Regions from separate parts of the Homo sapiens genome. Here region 1 is linked to region 2. The links come from fine-mapping of genetic effects on plasma protein levels. Region 2 holds a variant in brackets. A gene starts in the other region. All regions are shown on their forward strands.

Evidence for each region. PIP is the chance, under the fine-mapping model, that this variant and not a neighbour inherited with it causes the effect. Protein levels are from antibody-based Olink assays in UK Biobank. Linkage for the fine-mapping came from a reference panel and not from the study's own genotypes, which makes the PIPs less certain.
Region 1: it holds the start of INSL4, and the variant in region 2 is fine-mapped to the plasma level of the INSL4 protein (UK Biobank, PIP 0.97).

What each region holds. Positions count from the first base shown.
Region 1 is chr9:5,228,979-5,234,365 of GRCh38, forward strand. INSL4 (insulin like 4) reads left to right here and starts at 2,441. Exons shown (of 2, transcript NM_002195.2): 1 at 2,441-2,741; 2 at 4,676-5,387. The coding sequence starts at 2,546. The coding sequence ends at 4,899. RefSeq lists a promoter at 1,718-2,535.
Region 2 is chr19:19,907,319-19,912,705 of GRCh38, forward strand. All of the region lies in intron 1 of ZNF93 (zinc finger protein 93), which reads left to right. It also overlaps the pseudogene BNIP3P47. Among named protein-coding and RNA genes, the nearest start is that of ZNF93, 9.1 kb to the left of the region's middle. The variant GA/G (reference allele first, on the strand shown) is at 2,905.

The DNA.
Region 1 (5,387 bases), not on the chromosome of region 2:
GAGGGATAGATTTACCCCCAGTGGGGTTCCTCAATAATGGCACACATTGGACTAAGGTGCCAGATAACACTACAGATCACTCTACTATCCTCCCATTGTGTGTAAATTATAAATGTTCTAACCCTTAGTGTGCACCTACTGAAACACAATTATGGCTACATCATGGCAAAAGAAGTGCCTTAACAGTCTTAGCTGCAGGTAGCCTCAAAACGGAAATCAAGTCTGCTTTCCCAAACATTCCTTCCTGTGCTAAAGAACAAAGCCGGAAAAATAACGGATTCCACTTTAGCTGGGAGATCTGTCATGGGGAATAAGCTCATAGCCTCCAGTTAGGCAATTATAACATCCTAGACTGGAGCCCCTGTGGCCATTTGTAGGGCAGCCTTACTGATATCCTCATCCATCATGGCATCGATCACAGTTTCATAGCCTCGTCCCATTCCCTTATGATTTGGGCCGATGGGAGGATAGGATATCCCAGACCCCGAGTAAAGTTGATGCCTCCCCAAGACACTTTATGTTGCCTGGGACATCTTAGCACCTCCCTTGACACCTGGCATGGGACATATCATAATTACAGTAACAACTATACTATAACCTTTATTCATAATCACACTGATCAGTCCCTAATTTGCAACTCCATCCATATGTTTTCCTTATGGGAACTAATATTTCTATTACAACCCAAAATTCCATGTTTGTGACCCGGGTGCAAGGACAGGCTTTGTTTGCCTCATGTACCACTAATTACAATATATCTAATTTAAATACTACTAGTGTCATGGTATTAAGGAGACAATCTGAGGCATTCCTACCCGTCAATTTGACACACTATTGGCAAGGTTCCTCTTCCTTTGCCACCTTAGAATGTGCCCTATCCCAGGTCAGACCCAAAAGATTTATAGGCACACTTATAACCTTTATAGTCTCAGCCATAGTCATCCTAGCAACTGCTAGTGTGGCTATAGCATCTACTACCGAATCAGTGCAAACAGCTGCTTTTGTAGACAATTTGGCCAGAAATGTGTCTAATGAACTTCTCTTACAGCAGGGTATAGATCAAGAGATTCTTGCACGTCTGCAAGCCCTCGAGGCTGCCTTGGAATTTGTGGGGGAGCGACAAGATGCCCTAGCATTCTGATAGCAATTAAACTGTGACTGGGAGCATAAACATATCTGTGTCACATTTTTACCTTGGAATCAATCAATACATAGTTGGGATGAGGTGAAACAACACCTCTGGGGAAACTTTCATGACAATTTAACAGCAGACGTAAAGCAACTTAAAACTAAAATTTTAGAATCCCTTCACATGATAGATCTACATACTCAACAAACAGCCATATGGAAAGGTGTGCAAGATCATTTCTCCTGGTTATACCCCCGATCCTGGGGGTCACACTTTGACTGGAAAGGAATGTTACTAATTATACTCATGATTGTCTTACGTTATTTGCTAATTCTATGATGCAAAGCCGGAATAAAAGCAAAACCTAACAAACCTGTTGCTGCACACATCTGTACTCTTAAGTCAACAGAACCCGATGCAAAGAACAGAAAGGGGGGAGATGTGAGAGTTCAGTCAGGCTGGTGGGAAAATTTTTTCAGATAGTTATAAGAAAAAGACGCAAACCTTTTTGAAACGCCGGAGGGGTTTGTATAAGCTCCAGTAATAGATCAGGCTGAAGGCAGCCTAATCCTTACCTTGAGTTAATAGCTTAAGGCACAGATACAAATGAATGTAGTTTATCTAGTTTGTTTACTCATGTGGTCCTAAGACTAATCTTTGATCAACCGCGGGTGCATAATTGCTCTCTACTCGGGAGGTTGGCAATGTCAATTACCTTCTAGTGGTGTTTACTCAAGACCTTCGTCATTTAATCTATGCTGAATAAATGTGAGCTTTGCTGGCTGATCGGGGCCACGGCTGCAACTCTTTACAGCACCCTCCTTGGTGTCTGTAGGTGGCCCGGACCCTCAGCTGGACTGACAGGCAAACTATCTGTGTCAGTGTATGTTATTCATCCGTCGTTGGGTCAGGGTCTGTGGGACAGACCCCCGCAATTAAAAGCTTATATGCCAAATGTTAACTAAGATAATTTCTAGCCAATGAGCTTACAGGTCAGTTCTATTTTTATTTCATCTAAGCAAAGGACATTAAAAATTACCATTATTTTAGTAAGCATAAAAATAGTATTACAGGAGGAAAGTTAAGAAAAAGAAGTAGAACAACCAAATTCAAAACAAGCAAAGTGCAGCAGCACATTGGGAGCAAAGAGGGATATGAGAGTGTGGGTAGGGCAAGTAGGGAGACTAAATAAGAACTGAGGGAGAAAGTTCCTTGTAGGTGGGTGGGAAAGGGGTGGAACTGACACCATTGACGCAAAAGCTGAGTAATAGCCCTAAGCAAATAAATGCCTGATGAAGGCATGCAGAAAGCAGTCTGGAGCCCAGAAGGGACACACCAGCACAGTCTGGTAGGCTACAGCAGCAAGTCTCTAAAGAAAGGCTGAGAACACCCAGAACAGGAGAGTTCAGGTCCAGGATGGCCAGCCTGTTCCGGTCCTATCTGCCAGCAATCTGGCTGCTGCTGAGCCAACTCCTTAGAGAAAGCCTAGCAGCAGAGCTGAGGGGATGTGGTCCCCGATTTGGAAAACACTTGCTGTCATATTGCCCCATGCCTGAGAAGACATTCACCACCACCCCAGGAGGGTGGCTGCTGGAATCTGGACGTCCCAAAGGTGAGAGCCCTGGACTACCAAACAATCAGAATGAGGCCTGAAAAAACAGGCTCCAGATCTCATTGACTGCCTGTAGTCAACTCAGACTCTACTGTGGCTAGTGCCTACAAGTTTGTGGTTTTTCATTGTAATGTGCTTTTATTAAAAGGGTCTCACCAGAAATCTCATGGGAAGTTGGGGGTAGAGGAGAAGCTGCAGGAAAAACAGAAGAACAGCCTCACCTTGGAGGCTCTTGGTGCCTTTCCCACCTGGCAGCCAGAGATACAGGGTGGAGAAAACAGGGAATCCTCAGAGAAGGTGACTATTCTCAAACACCAGCAGGAGGTGAGGTGTACTCCCAGACCCCCAGGAAAGCTGGGCAGGCCAGAAAACAGGTGTGATTGCAATGAGATGCCTGGGCCAGGCATCTTCAATTAAGAAGAAAGGGGACAAACAGTGAGGTGATGAGCTGATTATCATTTCTGTTTATGCACCTATTGGCCTAGGGGCAGCACACTGAGACCTCTGTTAGGTTCCTGGAATGTGAGATAAAGGGGGCTTAGATTTAATAACTCTCATCCTTTGTCATTAAGCTGGGCAGTGGTCTATGTCACCAAAAACGTCCTCTTACAAAAAAGTTTTTTTTAATGCACACCAACAGAGCACCTTGCCTCCCATTTCTTTGAATCTACTCTTGTAGTGTGTTGAGAGAGATGAGATGAAGAGAAAGAAAGTGGCCTGGATGACTAGAGGGGAAATTGAAGGGGACCAGAGACAAGGGAATTTCACTGTTCAGACCATCATAGCTGATTTGATTAGTGTTTTCAACATTTGAGACTGCAAAGCATTTTCTTTAAAAGCAAGATTTCAGAATTGAGGAAAGTTCAATACCAGGATAGTTTTCAAACTTTACCAAGTAACAAGGTATTCATAAAGATAAATTGCCAGCTAAGTTAAAACTAGCAGGGGCAGTTTCGAAAAGAGATAGAGGCTACTATATTCTGTCTAATAGGTCGTATTAAGTTCTGAAAAGCTAAGTTAAATTACTAAACATTGTTTTACATTTAATACAAATGACACAGGTTTTGAACCAGCAATGTGTGACTCCAGAACTGCTTCTTGTAACCCATATGCATACACTTCATTAAATCATTAAATGACTCTGTTTAAAGTTATCGTGCACAGTGAATGCACTTGGATTTTGTGTGATTTATATAACGATTTCAAAGTTATTTCCTTTTTTTACATTATTAGTCAGAGCTTGTTTCATTTTACTATAAAATAAGGGAAGAATACCACAAAGTCCAAACAATTTCTAATGCAAACTAAGGAAGAGCATGCTGTACTATAATTTCTATTTAAATTTCACTTTTTTTCAGTAAATAAGTGAAAATCCTCATTTAAATACTTTGACAAATATAGATAAATTTAACAAGAAAAATGGAAAGTATTCATGGATAACAAATGTTAACATTTGGTGTCGACACATATAGATGTATGTTGCTTCTCAGCCTTTTAGCTAAGATCCACTGATATAGATGTATAGATTTATGTGGATCAGATTTGAATATCTGAATCTTTCTATTAGAATAACTTGTGATTATAAAAAAAATTCCCTATTGCTATCCAGTACATAATGCATTGAGGTTATCAATCAAAACAGTGTCAGGGAGAGTCAAAAGTGGTATGGTATAGGCATTTAGAGGGTCATTAGAAGAGTGCATAGAGGGGACAGGATGAGGAGTTAGCATATCCTTAATATTGTAGTATCTTAAAGTGCCCTACTCTAAGTAAGCTAAGTTGTTGAAATGTTAGGATACTTGCTGATTCTCTCTGGTGTTTAATTACATGGAGGCAATGGGTACATTGTGGTCTAGGCAAATTGTATAATTTTTCTGATCCTCTTTCACATGAATGTTTTTCCTCACCTTTCATTCCTCTCTTTTACTTCACAGAAATGGTGTCAACCTCCAACAACAAAGATGGACAAGCCTTAGGTACGACATCAGAATTCATTCCTAATTTGTCACCAGAGCTGAAGAAACCACTGTCTGAAGGGCAGCCATCATTGAAGAAAATAATACTTTCCCGCAAAAAGAGAAGTGGACGTCACAGATTTGATCCATTCTGTTGTGAAGTAATTTGTGACGATGGAACTTCAGTTAAATTATGTACATAGTAGAGTAATCATGGACTGGACATCTCATCCATTCTCATATGTATTCTCAATGACAAATTCACTGATGCCCAATTAAATGATTGCTGTTTATTAGAACATGAGAATCATTATTAGTATTCACATGTTTCACTTGCTCTGTACTAATATAGTCTCTCCAAATGGAGGAAGTTAGATAGATGGAATAAGTTCTAGTAGTTGATAGTACAATGGGGAAATTATACTTAACAATAATTCACTGTATATTCCAAAATAGCTAGAAGAGAATTGTAATGATTCCAACACAAAAAAGATGAATGTTAGTTTGGATGCATATCCCAATTACCCTGATTTGATCATTACACATTATATACACGTATCAAAATATCACATGTACTACAAAAATGTGTATAACTGTAATATGTGAACTACAAACTTACTGGAAATAAATTTTTAAAGTTTTACACACATAAACACATACGTTCACACACACTCACTCAAGTCTCTTCATT
Region 2 (5,387 bases):
AAAGATACTAAGTTCCATTGACAGAAACCTGATTATTCAAGTTAATTATCAAATATTTGCAGGCTGAAGTGCTTATACTGCAAAAGCAAAAACAGTTCAGTGTGTAAACTGAACAGTGGAGTCTGTAGTTGTGCCTTGCTTTCTATTTATTACTTCAGAACAATTAGCATAGTTATGTGTAGTATTTGCAGACAACCTGCATTCATATAAATTTAACAGCATTTTCTTTTCTTTTTTTTTTTTTTTGAGACAGAGTCTCACTCTGTTGCCCAGGCTGCAGTGCAGTGGCATGATCTCAGCTCACTGCAACTGCTGCCTCCTGGGTTCAAGTGATTCTCCTGCCTCAGCCTCCCGAGTAACTGGCATGCATCACCACACCTGGCTAAGCTTTTGTATTTTTAGCAGAGATGGAGTCTTACCACGTTCGCCAGCTTGATCTTGAACTCCTGACCTCAGGTGATTCACCCACCACAGCCTCCCAAAGTGCTGGAATTACAGGTGTGAGCCATAAACAGTATATTCTACAATAGTATGAATATAAAGCTGCAATACTTACTTTGAATGAATCACTTAAATGGTTATTTTAATATTGTTATTTATACTTTTGAAATATAAAGTGTTTGAAGTATAGTTGCAATTTTTTTAAATGCTACATACATTACTACTGGTACATTAAAATATTCATACTTATTTATATCTAATATCCAAAGAAAATTTACTACCAAAGTGTTACAGTTAGTCTGACATGTTTGTTACTTTATTCAATGGGGATCATTATGGGTAAACACAATTTTAGTATCTTTTGTTTCACTAAATTGGAACGCTGCTATTACAGGACAAATAAAGACAGGTGATGTGGCCACCAAAAACCATAATAGCTCTTCAGTTAACTATGTTACAAGGTCTAATATGTTCCACTGTATGAACACAGTCAGATTCTATTTCTTCATCAAAAAGTGTTGTTGGAAGTTGACAGATGATTTCCATATAGAACCCCCATTCAATGGCTAGAAAATGAGACTGCAGCAGAGATGGAAAAGAAACTTTATAAAATTTTTCTGAAAATCTGCCCTCTTTCTTCATAATGCTCATGTTTCTCATACTGAGAGTAGCTGTGCACTTTGGGTGTTTAGAAATAAATTGCTTTTAGGGGCGTATTTTCTGGCTGATGATCAATCTTATATCTAATCTGAGCTTTTTCTTGAGATCTTTTTACCTTTTTTCTTTCAAAATAATCTTGCTGGCCGGGCGCAGTGGCTCACGCCTCTAATCCCAGCACTTTGGGAGGCCGAGGTGGGCAGATCACCTGAGGTCAGGAGTTCGAGACCAGCCTGACCAACATGGAGAAACCCCTTCTTTACTAAAAATACAAAAATTAGCCAGGCATGGTGGCACATGCCTGTAATCCCAGCTACTCCAGAGGCTGAGGCAGGAGGATGGCTTGAACCCAGGAGGCGGAGGTTGCTGTGAGCCGAGATCGCACCATTGCACTCTAGCCTGGGCAACAAGAGTGAAACTCCGTCTCAAAAAAAAAAAAAAAAAAAAAAAAAATCTTGCTCAGATGGAGATTTGGTTTTCTCTCTAATGCTTTGGGTGTCTGTTTCAGAAATCCTATTAGTATCCCGTGGTGTCTGAATGAGGTGGGCTGTCACAGTGAGAACTTTTGAAGATATGTCTATCTGGACTCATGCTGAAAATTCAGAAGTATTTTTTCCATGTCATCATTATAAGTAGAAACTGAGGCTGAAACACTGCTCACATTCTGATTATTGTGAAGGTGAAATTCTATCCATGACGCCTGCAGGCTCTCCTCCTGCAGCTCAGACGTCACTCTCTGATGTGACACTAGAGTGCTGCTGTGGCAAATGGGGTTCACATAAAATGTAAGCTGTGCTCTGGGCTGTGCCTCAGTGGCAGATGGTAGCGGTAAAGAGAGGACACTAGCAACTAGGAGAAAGTAAACAGGAGTGCTGTAGCCCAGTGCCAGGGAGTACAGAGCCACTGCTCTAAAATGTAAATAGCCAAAAAGAACACTATTCAGCCATTTTTGTAGCAGAGTGAAAGCCTAGCTTCAGCAGACACCTGGCTTCAAGCTGCTAAACCAACTCCTGTTATGAAGATGTGAAAAGTTTATTTGTCATTGAATATAAGCAATTAGTATACACAGATGGCCTCTTCAGTATCCAGGTGAATTTAGGATGAACTATATATGACATGGTGCTGAAAATTCTTCTACTTGTGGACTAATTATGATGACCATCTTTCTGACTTTGCAGTCTCTTAAGCAGATTGATGATGATGTATGTCACATTCAAGTTTAATTGTGTAATAAGACCATTTTCTTTCTGTTCTATTATTGTGGAGTTTCTCTGAAAATAGAGAAAATTTTTCTTTTAATTATTGTTTCCACAGAGTGTCTAGAATTACCAGACATGATATAAACACATAAGGTGCCAACCAGAATTTACTGTAGAGGGGACTTTCCCTCTCAGACTTTGAGTCAGCCCATACTTGCGCAGCAAAATGCATGCTGTCCATTAAATATGCACGTGGAATTTTGTCTCTGCCTATTTGGTATTGATAGTTCCTCTACTGTCACTTCTAGAGAGGCTAGACCCAATTTCTACAAACTTCACAGGGCAGCAATTAATTAATCATTTAACCTTTTTCAGTGACTCTTGTATCTTCAGATTTGAAACTGATTCAGAAACTATGGAGCCCAGAAACCCAATCAGAGTAACATGTGTGTGCTGAGTAGACATAGAGACATGAGAATCTCCACTTTCCCCTTCCTCCTCTTGCTAAATGCTCACAAATGTACAGGTAAACACCTGTGGCTACTCCAGTCGTTCAGGCCCTAAACTTGAAGCTCCAAATTTTGAATCCAGGTCTTGAGATTTGGGG[GA/G]AAAAAAAACTTACCTAAGAAATGCAAGTCCCTTTGGTTATCAAACTCAGACATTAAAATGAAAGTACTGTTATGTCTTTCTCCCCCCTTTGAACTATGTATTCATCTCTTGAAACTGTTCACTATTGCCACAAGTAATTATAAATTAAACTAATAATGCCACATTAGACACTATATCCCATACCCTAAACCATAATAATATATATGTAATCAATAATCGATGTTATTTCTGTAAATAAATAAAAATTTCTGACAATCAACTTTGTATCAGCCCACTCTCTGTCCCTGTCTTGTTGTCTTTACAAATTGTCTTGTAACTGCTGGTAATCAAAATGCAGATTCCAGGCAACTTGAATCTTTGCTCCCAGGTTATAATCCTTAAGCTTGACCCAAGTAAACTATCTACTTATATTCATGTTCTTTCAGCTTTTTTTTTTTTTTTTCATGTAGACTTACCATTTAGAATGTGCTAGAGTAGTCTCTATGAGGGGATCTCTCCTTTGATTGTATTCCACTTGCTGTAACACCAAAGGATGCAGAGCCAGGTGGATCCTACCTGGAATCTGCAGATAAGGTCTGGCCTCTGCCTGGGATTTACAAGAAAGGACCAGAACTTGGATTGAGAATGTACAGAAAATGAACAAAAGTCATTTTCTGCATTGTGAATGTAAACATAGACATCTTACAGCCCCCATTTGGGAGTGTGGCTCTTTGAGATTTTCACATCTTGTTCATTGACCTGCTACAGTTATGTGAGGGGCTCCAGGAGAAATAGACTCAGATGGCAGAATCTGTAAGTGTAAATAAGCATCTTAGGAGTGAGAGATCGGGGCCACAAAGTATCCAGAGCCATGACCACAATTATATTTAGCTGTAAAATGTAATACTAGAGTAGAGTATTTTTGATCTTTCTCTTACCCAAGAGCTAGCAAATCAGAATGGGTGATCCAGGTTCTGGAGCTCCACCAGGGCAGTTCCATTTTCTATTCAGAGTTAGCCTGAGTCTCTCCAGCCTGGCTTATCATTGGGCCATGAGGCCTGGGTCACTGGGAATCTCTCACAATCACCCAGGTGTCTTTGAGGCATTTGAGGATGTCCAGAGCAGAATTTTGTCAGGCTGACAAGAGTGGTTAATTCTGCTTCTGTCTCAGTGTAAGAGAAATGAGTCATCCTGTGTTTGTTCATTCCCTCATACAAGAGATATCTTTGGTTGGTACCCCGATGACAGCTTCTCCAGTTTCCTGGTACTTGGATAATAAGGAGAAGATCTGGAGACCCAGATAGATAAACTAGCTCCTTCCACTTCATATGGGCATTAAAAAAATACATGAAGCAGTCATAGTTCCTACAATCCAGAAACTTTTAGTCTAGACTAGCTACTGGATAAGTAATTGAAGTGTGCATCATATGGTTGGTATAATAAATAGATGTGTTAAAAATCTTGGGCTTTAGACCACTTTCTTTATATTGTTGTGACTTCTGATGTCTACACCTGAAGGGAGATTTATGAACAAAATAATTGTTATAAATTCTTTTTTTTTTTTGAGATGGTGTTTCACTCTGTCACCTGGTCTGGCTTGCAGTGGCACGATCTCGGCTCACTGTAAACTCTGCCGCCCGGGTTCAGGTGACTTTCCCTTCTCAGCCTCCCGAGTAGCTGGGATTACAGTTGCCTGCCACTGCACCTAGCTAATTTTTGTATTTTTACTAGAGGCGGGGTTTCATCATCTGGATCAGGCTGGTCTTTAACTGCTTGACCTCGTTCTGCACCCGCCTTGGTCTCCCAAAGTCTTGAGATTACAAGCATGACCCACCGCGCTTGGCCGTATATTTTCTATTTCTTTTACCTTGCTAACTGTAGATATTTATTTTCTAATAAAATTACCCTAGAAAACCTTAAGGGATTTGTTTAAGTTGCATACTAGTATATAGTATAAAGTTGTCAGGGCAGTGACTAGAAAAGATAAAAACTACAGAAACTCTGGGATTTAAGTTTCTTTTAGGTAAGCTTAGAAACAAAACAAAACTGGAAGTTTCCTAGTTGCATAGAGAACAGAATTCTACATAGGGTTCTCACCCTGCCCCAGACGTGTTCAGATTCATCCTTTTTGGAGACCTTAGTTAGGTCTGAACCTACCCTGGAGTATTGCCTCACAGAACTCATTAAAGGAGATCAGAGTTTTGGCTGCTGAATCCTGCTGCCTTTCTAGAGCTGGTGCTCACAATTTCCTGAAATTCAAAAGCAGATAAATCGGGAAAAAAAGTATGTTTTGTAAGGTGTTTGTTTTTAAATTTTTTATTAAAACCAGTGCTTGCAGAGACATTGTATTTAGCAACTTGTTTTCTATTCCTGCAGATCCAGTAGTTGCTGCACAAGTCAAAAAAGTAAATATAAACAGAATGAAATTTTCTCTAGACTACATTAAACTCTTCTGTATCTCTTTCATCTGTCTATATTTAGCTTTTATTCTATACAATTTTT